2 separate regions of the Homo sapiens genome follow, and region 2 is linked to region 1. The links come from fine-mapping of genetic effects on gene expression. A gene starts in region 1. The other region holds a variant in brackets. All regions are shown on one strand. Distances are between the middles of the regions. Region 1 holds the start of FAM120A (family with sequence similarity 120 member A). Region 2 overlaps FAM120A (family with sequence similarity 120 member A).

Evidence for each region.
Region 2: its variant is fine-mapped to the expression of FAM120A in whole blood (INTERVAL, PIP above 0.99).

What each region holds. Positions count from the first base shown.
Region 1 is chr9:93,446,671-93,455,008 of GRCh38, reverse strand. It overlaps FAM120A (family with sequence similarity 120 member A), which reads right to left and starts at 3,324. Exons shown (of 18, transcript NM_014612.5): 1 at 2,620-3,324. The coding sequence starts at 3,093. It overlaps FAM120AOS (family with sequence similarity 120 member A opposite strand), which reads left to right and starts at 1,428. Exons shown (of 3, transcript NM_198841.4): 1 at 1,428-2,862; 2 at 4,410-4,530; 3 at 7,312-8,338. The coding sequence starts at 2,300. The coding sequence ends at 7,398. RefSeq lists enhancers at 1,228-1,522, 1,586-1,715, 3,295-3,844 and silencers at 2,435-2,614, 2,915-3,044, 3,185-3,714.
Region 2 is chr9:93,499,780-93,508,117 of GRCh38, reverse strand. The region is part of intron 5 of FAM120A (family with sequence similarity 120 member A); the gene reads right to left. Among named protein-coding and RNA genes, the nearest start is that of FAM120AOS, 50 kb to the right of the region's middle. The variant G/A (reference allele first, on the strand shown) is at 3,074.

The sequences.
Region 1 (8,338 bases):
TGTATGTTTAACTTTATAAGAAAGTGCCACTGTTTTCTGGAGTGGTGGTGCCATTCTGCATTCCCACAAGCAATGTGTAAGGATCCAGTTGCTCAGCATTCTTGCTAGCACTTGGTATTGCTCATATTTTTTTCTCTTTTAGCCATTCTAATAGGCATGTAGTGATATCATGGTTTTAAACGTTTTAACCACTTTATGGGTATCTTTTATTAAATGGTATACACTGTTTCAATCCCTTAAACAGAGAATGCTGAATATTAATTTTTATGACTCAAAATCATCCTTATAGAATAAACATTGTACTACCCTCAGGGACCAAGGAAGTACATAGGGTTGTTTTCCTTTTCTTAAAATAGCCCCAGAATTATGTTTGCTTTTTATAGCTTTTTAAATCTCTCTTGTCACTTCTTGCTATTAATGGTGCTCCTGCCTCTGGCAGACTCTCCTCTTCATCCTCTTCTCAAGCTGAGTTTAGAAAATAGATAACCAAGCTTGTTAGAATTACATATGAAAAGAGGCCAGTCCATGAGTGAGAGAGCTTAAAGGATTCTTCAGTGAGGAAAGCAAAAGCACCCCCCTACACCCGCCAACCCCCCACATCACTGTACCCAAACTTCCTGACATCTTGCTTGGTTGCTGAGAAATTTCTAGTAGCTAAATCTCTTAGGCACTTTTCAAAAAGGTAAGGTTGCCAGCTAAGAGACCACCAAGTAATTGAGTTATTACAATATTCATTTTGTGCAATTCGCACTATAATATGACCCTAGGTCAATAATTAAAAGCTTAGCAAAAGCAAAATACAGACAAAATTATCCCATTATCCCGTGTCCAGAAACCTAAGTGAAAAAGACGATCTTAAATGGAGCTTAAATCTAGTTTCCTAACACTGACACATTGGTCTGAATTCTGAGCACCTACTAGGTGTGCGAGGCATTCAAAGGGGTGCAAAGATAAAGAAACTGTAGAATTAAAAAGAACTCAACAGTTCTTTAAAGATACAGTGACCATATGCATACATACTGATTCTAATCCTAAGTAATATTCACAGTGTTCCCTTGAAAGTCGCTTGACTAGTTAAGTAGAGAGCTGTGCGGTTACCAAAGGCAAGTCAGTGCAGCTCATCCTGTCTTTTAAGTAGTCTTTTCCATCTCTGAACAAGACTAAACTATGAACACTTTTACGCTCTATTAGGGAGATGGATCGCTTCAGACAAATGGCAGCACCTTACTTCCCTGAGCGCCCCAGGCTCCGATTCAGAAATTAAAAGGCAGGCACTTCCTCTCACCCGAACTTCCCTGAGGAATGGCAGCTGTGTGTCTGCCAGGCGCAGGGGCCAATCGGGACTCTGCCGGCCGCCTCCACCCACGACTTAAACACCATCTCACCAATTGCAACCGGATCGTGGGTGGGACTTCCGCTATCATTTTAGGCTTAACTACCACCATCTCCTCGCGGGCAGTGGGGGCAACCGCGAAGACAGAATTTCACAAACTTTCAGCTCCAGCAGTTTCAAGGAAATGTCAAATGACAAGATGGAAGACCGAGTGTCAAGAGCTAAGACAACAAAAAGGCCCCCAAAATTTGTTTTCAAGAAAACCAATGAAAAAAGCAAGCAATCAGAACGTGAAGTCCAGGATCATGGATGTGCTTATCTTCACAGTCACTGCTGGGTCCTGAAGTTCTCCTCTGGCCCAGTGCCAGCTGCGAAGCCCTCTGCCAAAGGGCCAGAGGAGGCCGGTGATATAGAGCTCTGATTACCCACCCGTCAGGGCACCGCTGAAGGTCACTGAATACTTACTGTGCACCCGAAAAATAAATCCTGCGAGTTCACGCCCGCGTAGTTCGCCCCCTGATTTTGAGCGACTCCTTTCGCATGGGATCTACAAAACCGAACTGCCTTAAAGACCTCTTTCACACGGACGTGAAGTCACAGAACTGACAAAATCCCATCCTGTCAAAGTGCACGGGTCTTTGAAATCTAACACAAAAAGCCATAGAAAGATTCTCTAAACACCCTGTACTAAGAGGAACACGGACAGGGCACTGCGTTCTGAAGTAGAGGCCAGGGCACTGGCCCTTAGACACGTCTCGCTGTCACCGGGCTAACAACATTGGCAAGGGCGGCGGCAGCAGCACTGATATTTGCAGCCCCCAAGGGCTCTGGCGAAACCCCCTCTATTACTCTGTATCCTGCCTGCTTCCAAGATGAACCTGTTGCTGGGAAAGAACAGGCTAAATTAGAAAAGGGAGTATTTTGTCAAAGTTGAAGGTGAGTGATAGCCTGCCCGCCTCAAATAGGATGGGAAAAACTAAGGATATTGGGGATGATGACACTGTCGCCTCCGAATTCTGGTCCGGGGCTCTCTCCCAGCCCTCAAGTGTCCCCACGCGGCCGCGGACCCCGAACAGGGACAGCTGGAGACGGGCTTGGGCAGCGCGCGGCCTGCACCCGCGGCCATCCATCTTGCAGCCCGGCCCGGCCAGGCTATCCCGGGCAAGGGCTGGGGGAACTCGCTGCCCCCAGCGCCGCCACGGCCGGGCGACATTCTGCGCCCTGGGAAGGGGGATAGGGGTGCGGCGCGGCCCCGGTCCCCGGCCCGCCCGGATCCCCGGCCTCACCTTGACGTGGAAGCGGATGAGCGCCAGGCGGATGCAGTGGGCCATGCAGACGGGCGGCAGGAACCAGACCTTTGGCGGCGGGGTGCCCTTGTTCTGGACATGGCTGACGATCTGCTGTGCCGTCTGGCGCTCGTTGCCCTGCCGCTTGACCCACTCGTGCAGCCGGGCCTTCTCGAGCGCGCCGTTGAAGAAGACGAAGAGCTCGATGTTGCCGCCGAAGCAGGCCTTGGCCAGCGCCGCCAGGTAGCCAAGCATGTGGTTCCACTGGCCGCCGCTGACCCAGTCGGTGTAGAAGCCGCCGTAGAGGCGGTGCAGGCAGTTGTCGGCGTCCACCAGCAGGCGCAGCGGGGTCTGCGGGGGCCGCTGCCGCCCGCCGCCCACCAGGCTGCCCCGGGCCAGCTTCTGCAGCTCCACCGGCACCACGGCGCTCGGGCAGTGCTTCTCGATGTAGTCCTGGAAGCCCTGCACGCCCATGGCGGCGGCGGGGGCGCGGGCGCGGGTGCGGGCGGGGGGCGGCGGGGCCGGGGGTGGTGGGGCCGTGGCGCGCGGGCGGGCTGGCGGGCGGGGGCGGCGGCCTCTAGGGGGGACTGGGGCGGGTCGGGGGCGCGCTCATGGCCGCCGCGGCCGCCATGTGCTGCCGCCTCCCAGGGCCATGTCTGGGGAGGGACCTGCCGCCGCCGCCGCTGCCGCCGCTGCGAGGCCGAGGCCGAGGCCGAGGCTGAGGGCCGGGGCGGGGCGGGCGGGCGGCGCTGACGTAGCGGACCCGCCCGGCGCGGACGCCGCCCAGGCCCGCCGGCTAGCAGGCGGAAGAGGCGGCGCCGGCGGGACGCGGCTCGGGGCTCCCGGAGGCGGCGGCGGAGGCGGAGGCCCGGAGTTGGGCCGGGACGGGATCCGGGAGGCTTCTGAGCCGGAGCAGGCAGCGCCTGGAGGCCAGAGGCCGTTCGCCCGCCTCAGGCCGGTCGGCCGCCGCTCCCCTCCCCTGCGCCCTGTTCCCGGCAGGGCCAGAGAGGCCGCCGCCTCCGCCCGGTGGTTCTCGGGCGAAGGGAAGCCGCGAAGCAGGTCCTGGGGAAGAGCTCGCCTGCTCCTGAGGGAAGCAGCGATAAGATGGCGCTTTGAAGGGGAGCCGAGGCCGAGTCACTCTGTTCGTCGGGACGCCGCCTTTCTAACGCCGCCGTCGGCTCGCACCACTCTGGGCCTGCTGCCCACACTGACTGCGGGGTCCGGGAGAGCGGGATGCTGGCCGGCCGCGCCTGGCTTCTTGGAAAGAGCAGGAAGGAGCGCGAGAATGCAGTTCCGCGGCAGGTGCTCATCCCAGCAGCTTCGGGCTCTCGGTTGTGGTTTTTACACCTATGACAAATGACATGGCCAAACACACCATAATGTCTGAAGGTACAGGTAGCCCTAAGCGCCTGCTCGTCACGGAAGAGACTGTCTTGAGAGCACAGGTCTGTTGCAGCGTGGGAAAGCCTGCGTTACCACTGCGCAATGGCTAGACTGAAACGTGCGCCTTTGCAGTGGATCTCCCAGCTCTTCTGAGGGAGAGGGATTTGAATCTTGTTGCTTTAGTAGCATCTTCTGGAAGGAGGTCGTTTACGTAAATTCTGTTCCAAAGCTCTGTCGTAACTGCTTCTAAAATGAGGTTGATACTGTATGTATATTAGGCTTGCATAAAACATTTTCAAAAAGAGATTAATGTCTTTCAGAATATAAATTTAGAAACCCAGCACTCTAAAAGTTTTAAAGTGCCGCTTTTACTTACCTTCATCTCTCCATTTGTTCTTTTTTTGGAGAAACCTCTGTAGAGGAGCAGGATGCAACCGACAGGCTGTGGCCGGACAGCTGCTGCCCAGCACATGGAGCCTGCACGCGCACGGTTTGGCCAAAGAAGCCCCCATACTCCCGGTGAAAAAGGCAAGTTGGATTTTTCTGCTTTCTTTTCTGATACCCACCTCAAATGCAAGCCAGTATCATACGTACATAAATTAAATGCTGCTGGTATTTTAGGAAGTTACATTTAAAAGCAGGCTGACAAGTTATGCCACTCACCTATGCATAAAATTAGTCACAAAGCCAGGATGACATGTTATCTAAAAATAATACAGGCCAGGTGCGGTGGCTCACGCCTGTAATCCCAGCATTTTGGGAGGCCGAGGCGGGTGAATCATTTGAGATCAGGAGTTCGAGACCAGCCTGGCCAACATGGTGAAACCCCGTCTCTACTAAAAATGCAAAAATTAGGCGGGCCTGGTGGTGTGTGCGCCTGTAATCCCAGCTACTTGGGAGGCTGAGGCAGGAGAATTGGTTGAACCCGGGAGGCGGAGGTTGCAGTCAGCGGAGATGGCACCACTGCACTCTCTAGCCTGGGCAAAAAGCGAGATTCCGTCTCAAAAATAAATAAATAAATAAAAGAAATAATACAGTTAGCCATTAAATAACGAGCAAAATCCAGAAATATCCAAATTTGCTTTTATAACCCAAGGCAGGTTCACAAGGTGAGGAGTAGTAGTTTTTAATCACTCGTATTTTCATTTGTAGCATTGCATTCCGTGTATTTACCTTTTCTTTAAACACTCTTGCTTTTAATTTTTAAAAATGCATTAGTGCGGCCGGGCGTGGTGGCTCACGCCTGTAATCCCAGCACGTTGGGAGGCCGAGGCGGGCAGATCACGAGGTCAAGAGATGGAGACCATCCTAGCCAACATGGTAAAACCCCATCTCTACTAAAAACACAAAAATTAGCCGAGCGTGGTGGTGCGCACCTGTAGTCCCAGCTACTCGGGAGGCTGAGGCAGGAGAATTGCTTGAACCTGGGAGGTGGAGGTTGCAGTGATCACGCCACTGCACTCCAGACTGGCAACAGAGCGAGGCTCCATCTCAAAAAAAAAAAAAAAAAAAAATGCCAGTGCCAGTATCTGGAATTCTGGAAATAAATTTATTTTCACCTTATTATATTGTAGAGGTCTAAGGTTCTGGAGTCAGGCCCCCAATATCCATCTTATGATAAGTCTGTGCCCTTGCAAAAATATTTACCTTATTGAACCTTGGATTTTATCATCTGTAAAATCAACATATTAATAGTACTTAACCTCCCAGGTTGTTATAAGGATTAAATCAGATAACCTGTGTGCCTGCCACACAACAAATGCTCAATAAATGTTGGCTTTTGTAGTTATTTCCAGAAACTGTATTTGTCTAGACTTATACTCGAGAACATAGACCAGTTATTGTACTTTTGGAAAGTTTAAAATTCATTATTGTATCATAACACATAAAACTCAATTCTTAGTTGCCCTATTTAGCTTTGTGTTCTTTAAAAAAAAAAAAAAAAAACTTTATTTATTGAGTAGCTATTGATGGTGGGCAAAATGTTTAGCTGACAAACACTTATATACTCTGCATCCTTAACTCAAATTCAGGGGTTGGTTGAAGTTAAATTGCTTAAATATTGAGGTAAAAATAAACATCTGGGCCGGGCGCAGTGGCTCACGCCTGTAATCCCAGCACTTTGGGAGGCTGAGGTGGGCGGATCACAAGGTCAGGAAATCCAGACCATCCTGGCTAACACGGTGAAACTCCGTCTCTACTAAAAAAAATACAAAAAAAAATTAGCCGGGCGTGGTGGCAGGCGCCTATAGTCCCAGCTACTCAGGAGGCTGAGGCAGGAGAATGGCGTGAACCCAGGAGGCGGAGCTTGCAGTGAGCCGAGATCACGCCACTGCATTCTAGCCTGGGCAACAGAGCGAGACTCCATCTTAAAAATAAAAAATAAAAAATAAACATCTGTATTTAAAATTTAATAAAAAGTTATGTCTTCTTGGAGGTTACAATATGACAACTAATGGTTGGGGACTTTTTCTTTTTTTATTTTGTATTTATTTTATTTATTTTTTCTCCCCCAAGATGGAGTCTTGCTCTGTTGCCCAGGCTGGAGTACAATGATGTGTTCTCAGCTCACTGCAACCTCCCTCTCCCAGGTTCAAGTGATCTCCTGCCTCAGCCTCTGGAGTAGCTGGGATTACAGGTACACACCATCACACCTGGCTAAGTTTTGTATTTTTAGTAGAGACGGGGTTTCACCATGTTGGCCAGGCCAGTCTCGAACTCCTGACTTCAAGTGATCCACTTGCCTCTGCCTCCCAAAGTGCAGGGATTACAGGCATGAGCTACCGCGCCCAGCCTAATATCATTAATTAATATTTTACTTAGGTGAGGTATCTAACCACCAACAATAACAGATGAGTTTCCAGTTTTTCAAACAAGGTAATAAGAGACCTTAATGCTGCCCATGTAATCATTAGCAGATGTTGGGAGACCAGCAGACTGGAGCTAAGCAGGGAGTCTGCGATCATGGAAGAGAGCAAATTAATCCACACTAGGGATTCTAACCTATAATGTTTACCTAGCACCAGCCCTGTTAATTAATTGTCAATTTAAATTACCCAGAAGAACACACACATCTGTAGGCCTGCTTCATAAATGGTAGATCAGTAACTGACCACACTGCAGCCGTGTATCGGCAGTTGAGTTTTTTGGTCTTCAGGCTCTGCTATCTCTCCAGTACTATGAGTTATCAGCAGTAGCAGAGGGTAGGAGAGCTCCACAGAGATCAATATTCGGACTCTGGAGACCATGACAAAATACATTTCATATTCCAAACTAATATATAAACTACCTTTTTTTTTTTCTTTTCAGATTTCCAGAAGCTGTTCTGTCAATAACAAAGTCTCAAAGAAAACCACAAAACCACCAACACTAAGATCATTCTTGAGTCCAATTTGAAAAACTAGGGTCAAGTTCTGCAGAGGCATTGAAAGGACAAGAAACCACCCTGATACCCATCGTGTGAGGGAAAATGCTCTATTCACCATTCCTCAGCTTCTGCTTCTGGTTTCAGAGTTCTCTCTATATTGGAGGGTGTTTTAAAGCTAGAGTGGTCTTTATCCACTTTTATTAACACATCTGAATGTGAAGGTCAAGAGAGGAAAGTGATATGTCCTAAGTCAGAGTAGAGTCAACAAGAAAATAAGACAAACAGCGACTGAGCCCCTGGTGTATACTGGGCATTGGCCAGCTACTGGGGATATGGAGATGAAGAAAACATAACCCTTCTTCAAGGAGCCCAACCTACCAAGGTAGACAGACATATAGACAAATAGATACTTGCATAGAAAAAAAGAGGAAAAGGGGATCAGTGTGACCTGTGTAACTAAGTACCCTATAAACCCTCCTGCAACAGATCATATTGCCCTTTATAGTGGGGATGGTAATCCCATCTGAATTCCACAGGTACTTTGCAGTCATACCACACCCATGTGTCTGTCGGTCCTGACTGTACCATTTATAAACAGCTTCACTTTCAGCAGTTCTCAGCCCTCTTAAGCTAGGGTCATTGTCAGTAGGGATACTGCTTCATAAGCACCAGCAGAACACCAAAGGAGACCATATGGGTGAAAGCAACCAGCACTGCCCTGGCGCTTCATAGGTTCTTAGAGTTTTTATCTTTTACTTTCAGTCTAACACAGCACTGCCTGCTTTTTGTTTTTGTTGCTTGGTTTGTTTTTTTCTTACCGTGTTCACCAAACTTGTGTCCAAATAGCTTTGGGCTGATGCAAAAATATCTATGTGGAAGAGAAGAGTTGTTCTCATGGAGGGCCTTCAGATGAGTGCTATAGACTCTCTAGGCAACTCCAAGAGGCTTCTCAAGCAGGGTGGGCAGTGA
Region 2 (8,338 bases), 53 kb before region 1:
TCAAAAGACCAGGTAGCAGGAGGCTGTCTGCTATGAGAGATCAAGCTCCCCTACCTTCACTGTAAAACCACATGTGCACCAAAACCACTCCCTTCTGTATCTTTAACCCCTCTCTCTCAGTAGTCATCATCCCCATAACAACTTCAACCTGTTCAATTCTCCCCTGCATTTCAAAGCCCCACCCCTTTATGGAAATGACTGGAGAGAGGCGTGGTACTTGCCACCCATCCTATCCTCTTCTACGAATTTCTATACTGAGGAAGAAGGAAAGCTAAAAATGACTTTTCCTAGGATCCACTGCCTCTTATTGAGGGCCAACCAATTGTACATACACAAGGTTTGGGAGCTCCAAATTCAGCCGAAGCCTGCCCTGAGTGGTCCTACTGACACTCCATCTATCAGGCAGCGCCCTCATCTTGCCCAACCTCTCAGAACTCAGCGCTGCTAACAACTGTGCACAGGGTATCTCCCCTGGCCTCGCTGAGCCACTCTTTCTGTGCACCCACCTCCTGCATCTGGCCCCAGGGGCGCCATCTCTTTATCCTCCGCTTCCACCACCACAGCTCCTCTCAGCATTACACACCAGCAAAGCTGCAACCCATGACTCCAGCTTAGCTCCTCACTCTGCTTTCACCTGTGCATTCTAATGCCTGTTTCCCATCTCCACCGGGATCCTAGAAGGCGCCTCAACATTCGTATCCAAAACCATCCTCCAAATCTGCTCTTCCTCCAACCATCTTTATCTCATTAATGGCATCCTCACCTGAGCTGCTCAAGCCAAAACTCTGGGAGCCATTTCCCCCGAATTCTTTTCATTGAGCTTCTATAATCAAGCATCAATATCTACTATCTACTTATTCCATCTCCCAAAAACCTATGAAATCCACCCAGCACTCCTGCCTCCCACAGAGGAGAACTTGCCCCAGGGACTGCAACCATGCCTTGCCTCAATACTGAAAGAGTTTCCCACTCCTTTCCCTATACCTGCCCTTGCCCACTCTGATCCCCTCTGCACACTGAGGCCCAAGCAATTCAAATGCACACCTCAGCACACCACTCCCAGATTAAAACTCTTTCATGAGGATATTTCTTTAACATGGAAAAGGTAGAGGAGATAATGCTAAGGGTTAAGATGACAAGACATCAGACTCCCCCTTAAGATCAAGGGCTAGACAAGAACAGTCACCATCGCACCTTCTATTAAAAATCGTGCCCCGGCCAGGTGTGGTAGCTCACACCTGTCCATTTGTGGACAGCACTTTGGGAGGCCGAGGTGGGCAGATCATGAGGTCAGGAGTTCGAGATCAGCCTGGCTAACACAGTGAAACCCCGTCTCTACTAAAAATACAAAAATTAGCCGGGCATGGTGGCAGGCACCTGTAATCCCAGCTACTCGGGAGGCTGAGGCAGGAGAATTGCTTGAACCCAGGAGGTGGAGGTTGCAGTGAGCTGAGATTGTATCACTGCACTCCAGTCTGGGCGACAGAGCGAGACTCCATCTTGAAAACAAAAAAAAAAGAAGAAAAAAAAAAATCATGCCCTAAGTCACAGCTGGCTCAGTGGATCAGGAAGATCAAAAAGATACTAGAGGAGACACAATCAGCCAAAGCAAGATACAAATAAACTATGAAAATTAATAAGAACTGAGCAAAGTTGTTAAGATAAAATCAACTTACAGTATTAATTTGAAAATATAAGACACACATAGAAATAGCACCCAAAAATAAATATTTAGCAATATCTCTAAGAAAAGATGTTATGAATGCTTAATGAAGAAAATTCAAGTTTACGGAAAGATATTCAGGACAATTCAAATCAATAAAGAAATGTAACATTTTCTTTAGTACACTCAATAATAAAGATTTTATTCTTTCCAAATTGATCTACAGAGTTGGTGTAATTCCAATCAAAATCTCCACAAGGATCATAAAATGTACATAAAAGTGAAAAGGATCAAGAACAGTCTCGACCTCTTGCAGAAATATTACATGGGCAGATTTCCCCAATCAGACATCAAGTATTATTACAAGGCTATGGCAACTAGAACGGCATAATCCTGTGGCATGAAGATAATCAGAAATTCAACAGAACTGAGCCCAGAAACAGACCCACACACGGAGACACTCAACATGTCAGAAGAGGATAGCATTCTCAGTGGACAATACTAAGGCAACAGGTTCTCCACACGGTGAACAAGAAACTGAATTCCCTCACTCAAAAACCATAAACAAAATTCAGTGCCAGGTAGTATCAAAGGGCAAAATCATAAATAAAACTTTTAGAAGACAAAGTGTTTATCACCTCAGGCTAGGGAGGAATTCTTCCTTTATGTTTTCTTTTTCTCCTTCTCATGTAACACTTTAAACAAACACAAGAAAAAAGGGAACTGTACAATAAGCCACACATATCTATCAACCACCCTCAAAATTAACCAGCACACAGCCTATTGCGTGTCATCTGCACTTCCACCCTTCTTTGCCCACTACTGCATTATTGTGAAGCAAATCTCAGACATGACATCATTTCATCCATAAATACAGGATAGGACTTAAAGGTACAAACAACAAAGGGAAAAATTCATGTATTTGACATTAAGAACTCTGATATCAAAGCACATCATGAAGACAGAAAAATGCAAGCCACAGATTGGAAGATTATTATTTGCAGTCCATTTATCTGACTAGCATCCAATATATATATTAAGTATCCCTATGAATAAGCAAAAAGAAAAACAACCCAACAGAAACACAAGCGAACAGGCCGGGCGCAGTGGCTCACGCCTGTAATCCCAGCATTTCGGGAGGCCGAGGCGGGCGGATCACGAGGTCAGGAGATTGAGACCATCTTGGCTAGCATTGTGAAACCCCATCTCTACTAAAAATACAAAAAATTAGCCAGGCGTGGTGGCGAGTGCCTGTAGTCCCAGCTACTCGGGAAGCTGAGGCAGGAGAATGGTGTGAACCTGGGAGGCGGAGCTTGCAGTGAGCCGAGATTGCGCCACTGCACTCCAGCCTGGGTGACAGAGCGAGACTCCTTCTCAAAAAAAAAAAAAAAAAAAAAAAAAAACACAAGC[G/A]AACAACATGAACAAGCATTTCACAATAGAGGAAACCCTACTGGCCCATAAACATAAAGATTCTCAACCTCATTAGTAATCAGGGAAATGCAACTGAAACCTTTACAGGATATAGTTTCATAATCACTAGACCAAAAAATAATAAAACGTGGAGCAATGAGAGGGTTCTTTCACTTCTGCCAGGAGAATAAATAGGTGTATCCGTGTCCGGCAGCAGCAGAGGCTTGAACAGGGCCCTACCCTGGAGGTTCCCTGGAATTCCACTCCTGGGCACATCAGGTCACATGAAACAATGTTCACAAGTGCGCTATCCATCATGGCAAGCAGCTGGAAACAGTCCATTTTCCATCAACAGTAGAATGGACAAATATATATTAATACAATGGAATGCTGCACAGCATTAAAAAATGAACTATGCCAACATGAATGAAACACAATAATATAAATATTAAGAAGGCAAGTCAGAGGAGTACATGCTATATGATTTTATTTCATAACAAACAAAATGAAACTATTTAGTATCCAGACATACAGACACGATAAAATTATATAGAGAAGCACAGAATAACTAATACAAAATTGAGGGTGGTAGAGAGTCGAGGAATGCAACCAGCGAAGACATATAAGAGGGCTAAGATATTAGTAATGTTCTAAGACTAACACATTGTAGTATGATAGTTACAAAATCATTTTTTTTACAGGTAAAAATTATTCCATGAGCTTTCACGTTCTAAGAATAAAGTCTAAAATCCAAGGTGGTGCCTGGCAACTGCACTGCCGCTCTCAGCATCACCTGACCACTCTCCCCGCTTTCTGTGCTTCAACCACATTCTTCTTATTTTTCTTCTTCACTATGTCCTCCTAACTCAGGACCTCTCACATGCCACCTCCCCTGCATGGAATACACTTCTTCCCATATTGGCACCTTGCTAGATGCCTGAACCCCCAAACCCCACTCAACAATAATCTAATCAATCAGAACCAGCCATTTTAATCGTAGATTGATTCAATCAGGTTGGTCTTCCTTGAGGTTCCTGTTCTCTTTCCTGCAGGATTCCCTGGTGTTCACTTCCCCACTATACATTCATCTGTAGGGGCAACGGTAACTCCTCTCTTATTTACCACACCATTCAGCACCCAGCACACTGCCTGTCATGAAATGCACAAATCAACGAGCTCTTTACTTTAAAATATATATATATATACTTTTTTTTTTGAGCAGTTTCAAGGTTACAAAAATCTTGAGCAGAGTACACACTTCGCATTGGTGTGACACATTTGTTCCAACCAATGAGCCAAACCTGGCTACATTATGATTACCTAATGCCCACAGTTGGCATTAGGGTTCACTCTTGGTGCTGTACGTATTCTGGATATGGCTAGAAGTATAATGCCATGTATCCACCGTTACAGTATCATACAGAATAGTTTCACTGCCCCAAAAATCTGCCTAATCATCCCTCCCTCCCCACAACCTCTGGCAACCCTTGATCTTTTTCCTGCCTCCATACTTTTGGCCTTTTCCAGATGTCCTATAGTTGGAATCGCACAGTATGTAGCCTTTTCTGATTGGCTTCTTTCACTTAGTGATATGTACTTATGTTCCTCTGCATCTTTTCATGGCTTGATAGCGCATTGCTTTTTAGTGTTGATTATTTCATTGCTTAGATACACCAAACTTTATTTCCCTGTTGACCTACTGAAGACATATTGGTAGCCTCCAAGCGTTGGCTATTATGAATAAAGTTGCTTTAAATATCTGTGTGCAGGTTTTTGCGTAGACATAAGTTTTCAACTCCTTTGGGCAAACACCAACAAGCATGACTTGGGAATTTTGTAAATATCTGCGAAGCTGTCTTCCAAAGTCGCTGTACCATTTTTGCAATCCCATTAGCAGCACAATCTGTTGCTACCCATCCTCACCAGCATTTAGTGTTGTTGGTGTTTTCTATGTTAATCATTCTAACAAATGTGTAATTAAAATGTGTAGTAGGAGCCCATTTACTTTTCACTAAGGAAGGCCAATGACACAGTGGCTACTTCTTCAGCCTCAATTTCACCTGCACACGGGATCTGTGCCCATAGATTCCACATCCACAGATCTGAGGTGAGACCTCAGTGTTAGTTGTGTTACTTGTTACTTTAGTAAATTCCACCAATGATTTTGAAGCAACTGGTTTAACTAGGGAACTAAATATTTTGAAATCTCAACTATCACATATCTTATTTGTGCTTGCATTTAGATTGGTGATTTCGTGGAGAGCTATAGCAGATTTTACATGCTGAGACAGAAAGAACAAATCACAACCATTTCCAGATAGGCAGGTCCTCGCTTAGTAATTATGACATAGTGAATGCTTAAAAATAAGTATGCATCTCACCACCACTTATTTTCAAAATCATCTCAAAATACACAATTTCTGGGAGACTATATTGCAAGTGTGCGTGTGTGTGTGTGTGTGTGTGTGTGTGTGTGTGTATGTGTCCTCCTAAGAACTCTACACTACCCAATAACTGTTTAGAGATCTGAGGTATTTTTCTCAATATTGCAGATAGATTTACAGGCTTACAAAGAAAGGCACAGAGGATGAGTTGTGGTTCCTAAAAGCCAGGCCAACTGGTACCTAGCTAGGAACATTCCTTTTTAAAAAATATAAATTCCTAAGGCCCAATTAAGATGCTAAAATAGCAGTTTTGAGGTGGAATCTAAAATTCCAGCCAAGTTTAGAAACCTCTGGTTAGATCAACTCACCCCATGTTTTTCCCCTATAGCCATGCTCTCTAAGCTTATAATATGATTACCCTAAAATTTCTTCAAAACTCTACACATATTCCAATTTCTGAATGATTAATAAGATAAATTCTAATACAACAAGAAACTAATATCCCCACATTGGTTCTTCAAAATTCTGAATTATTTTCCTGTAGAATAATATAATGGACTGTGGTTGGATTCTATGACAGATCACCAAAGACCACTTAGGACCTATCTACTACTTATAAAAATATTTCTGTGGAAAATACATCATGGGTTCTAACTTGAGTTGCCAGAAAGGGTCCCACCGACTCCATGTTGTTCCTTCTAGACTTTCAACTTAGGTTCCAGTCTTCGCCCTGTTAGTTTCACTGGTAGGATCCCAGTAGTATGCAGGGGTAAAAATCAATGACAGCTAATGTAATTTATGTTTCTTCAGAGTTATCAGAAAAAAACTAAAGTTATTTTTACAAGAATCCATTTCTGCTAGTTCCAAATCATGTGTATGCAGCTTGAAACAAAACGTCCTTCCCAATCTTGCCTGAAGCCTCTCTCCAGGCTTGTCTCCTGCCATTCCAGACTGCATACCCGTCATCTTAAAATTCTACACTGCCCAAACTTCCTGCCTGGCTGTCATTCTGTGCCTGTACTTTTGTTAGTCCCTCCGCATACAACCCTCATTTCTGCAACAGCCAGAAGCATCAGGGAATGCTGTACAGGAGGATTTACAGGCAGTTCATGCCTACCCTAAGCTGCCTCAAACTATCATCCCAAGCATCCCAAACTCTACCAGTTACTTTGCTGTTCTCCATAAACCACCGAGTAGTGAAAATGAAAGTGAAACTAAATTCTGAGTAAACTTCACCTCTAAAATACTCACCTAAAATCTTAATAATTTGATAAGAACACAAAAGCACTTGACAGAACATATTTTTAAGATATTCAAACTTAACTCACCTTGCCTATTCAAAACATCTTCATAATTATGAGCCCAGATCAATGCCAAATATTAAGTGTGCTGCCTTTCTCTATACTTATCTTCCTAATTTTCTCCTAAGTAGATTTTCCAGTCCCAAGTACACTCTAAGGACTTTCTAAACTACACCTGCCATACAGACTGTCCCACAGGAGCACAATGTCAGTGAAACACAGGAGACTGCCGGCCCCACCTCTGAGCGCTCCTTCAGGCTCCTCACTGCTCATTCCAATGCCCAATCATTCAGTGCCTGTTGAGGCCATTCTGCCAATGAGAAGAATAATGACAGTATCTACTATCAGACAGTATCTGTTATTCTTATAGGCAGAATTACCTAAAAGGGCATTGAATGACTGAACAAGTACTTCACTAAAGCACCTTACATACGCCTTCTCTTTTAATATTCACATAATGACCCCATTCTATAAAATAGGGAGCTCGAGGTCAGGAGGCAGTAGGCCACAGGTGGCAATGTTCATGCTCCCCATCATTCCCACAAGCAATTATTAGACATCTTCTGTGTGCAGGGTATACAGTAGACACACTGAGATCTGGTCCCATAATGCCTCACCTTAACTGATGAAACAGTATACAGCTAGTCTCCCTCCTGCTGATGCTCTGTGCCCCCTTTTCCAAAAATAATCCTAAAACACATCTCACCACTTCACTCTCTTGATTTAAAAACCAAGTGGATCAATTCATTCAGTCAAATATTTATCCACTGGGGATATAAAAGTAAAGGTGACTAATAGGCCCTCATTACCCTAGACTTTACATTGTGGGGAGTGACGGGGGAAGGGGTGGTGGTGGTGACAAATAGAAGCCAAGGAGTGTGCAGAGATTTAAAGCCAGGCAGACCTTGGAGAACACGACAGCCTGGATCTCACAAATCAGAAGGGCACAAACACAAGCTGGTCAGAGAAAGGAGCCCTCCAGGCACAAAAGCCGGCCCAGAGGCCCAGGGCAGAAGCTAGCTTGGTTCATGCAAGGCAAGAAAGGAGGCTGCGCTCAGGAGTGAGAAGCCAGCAGTCTCAGATGATGGGGAGGAAGCAAGGTAAGTAGTTGGGAATTTATTCCAAGTGTGACGGGAAGCCAATGGGGAATTCTGAGCATGGGAGTAGCACAGTCCAACTGCCATTTTTAAACATTACTTTGGCTGCTGGGAAGAAAATGGATTGCAGGGGAGCAAGAGAGCAGCAAAGAGCCCCACTGGGAGGCTGCTGCCATTTACTGACCTCGCAGTGGAGATTCAGCCACTCCATGCCCATCTCCAGGTTACAAGCCCTACCTCCTTTATTACAGGGCATCGGCACAGGCCATGTTTCCCTGTCCACCACCCAGCCACATACATAGGCAGCCAAAGCCAGTGCCATGCCTCTGATCTCCAATGCCCAGTTCCTAGCATACAGCAGACACTATGCTTGAATAAATGAAGGGTGCAGCTCTTAAGGCCACTTTCAATCTTGGAATTAGTCTTCTCAAATAAATACAAAGTCTCCTTCCAGTAAGAGTCTCTTGAACATGCAATCATTCT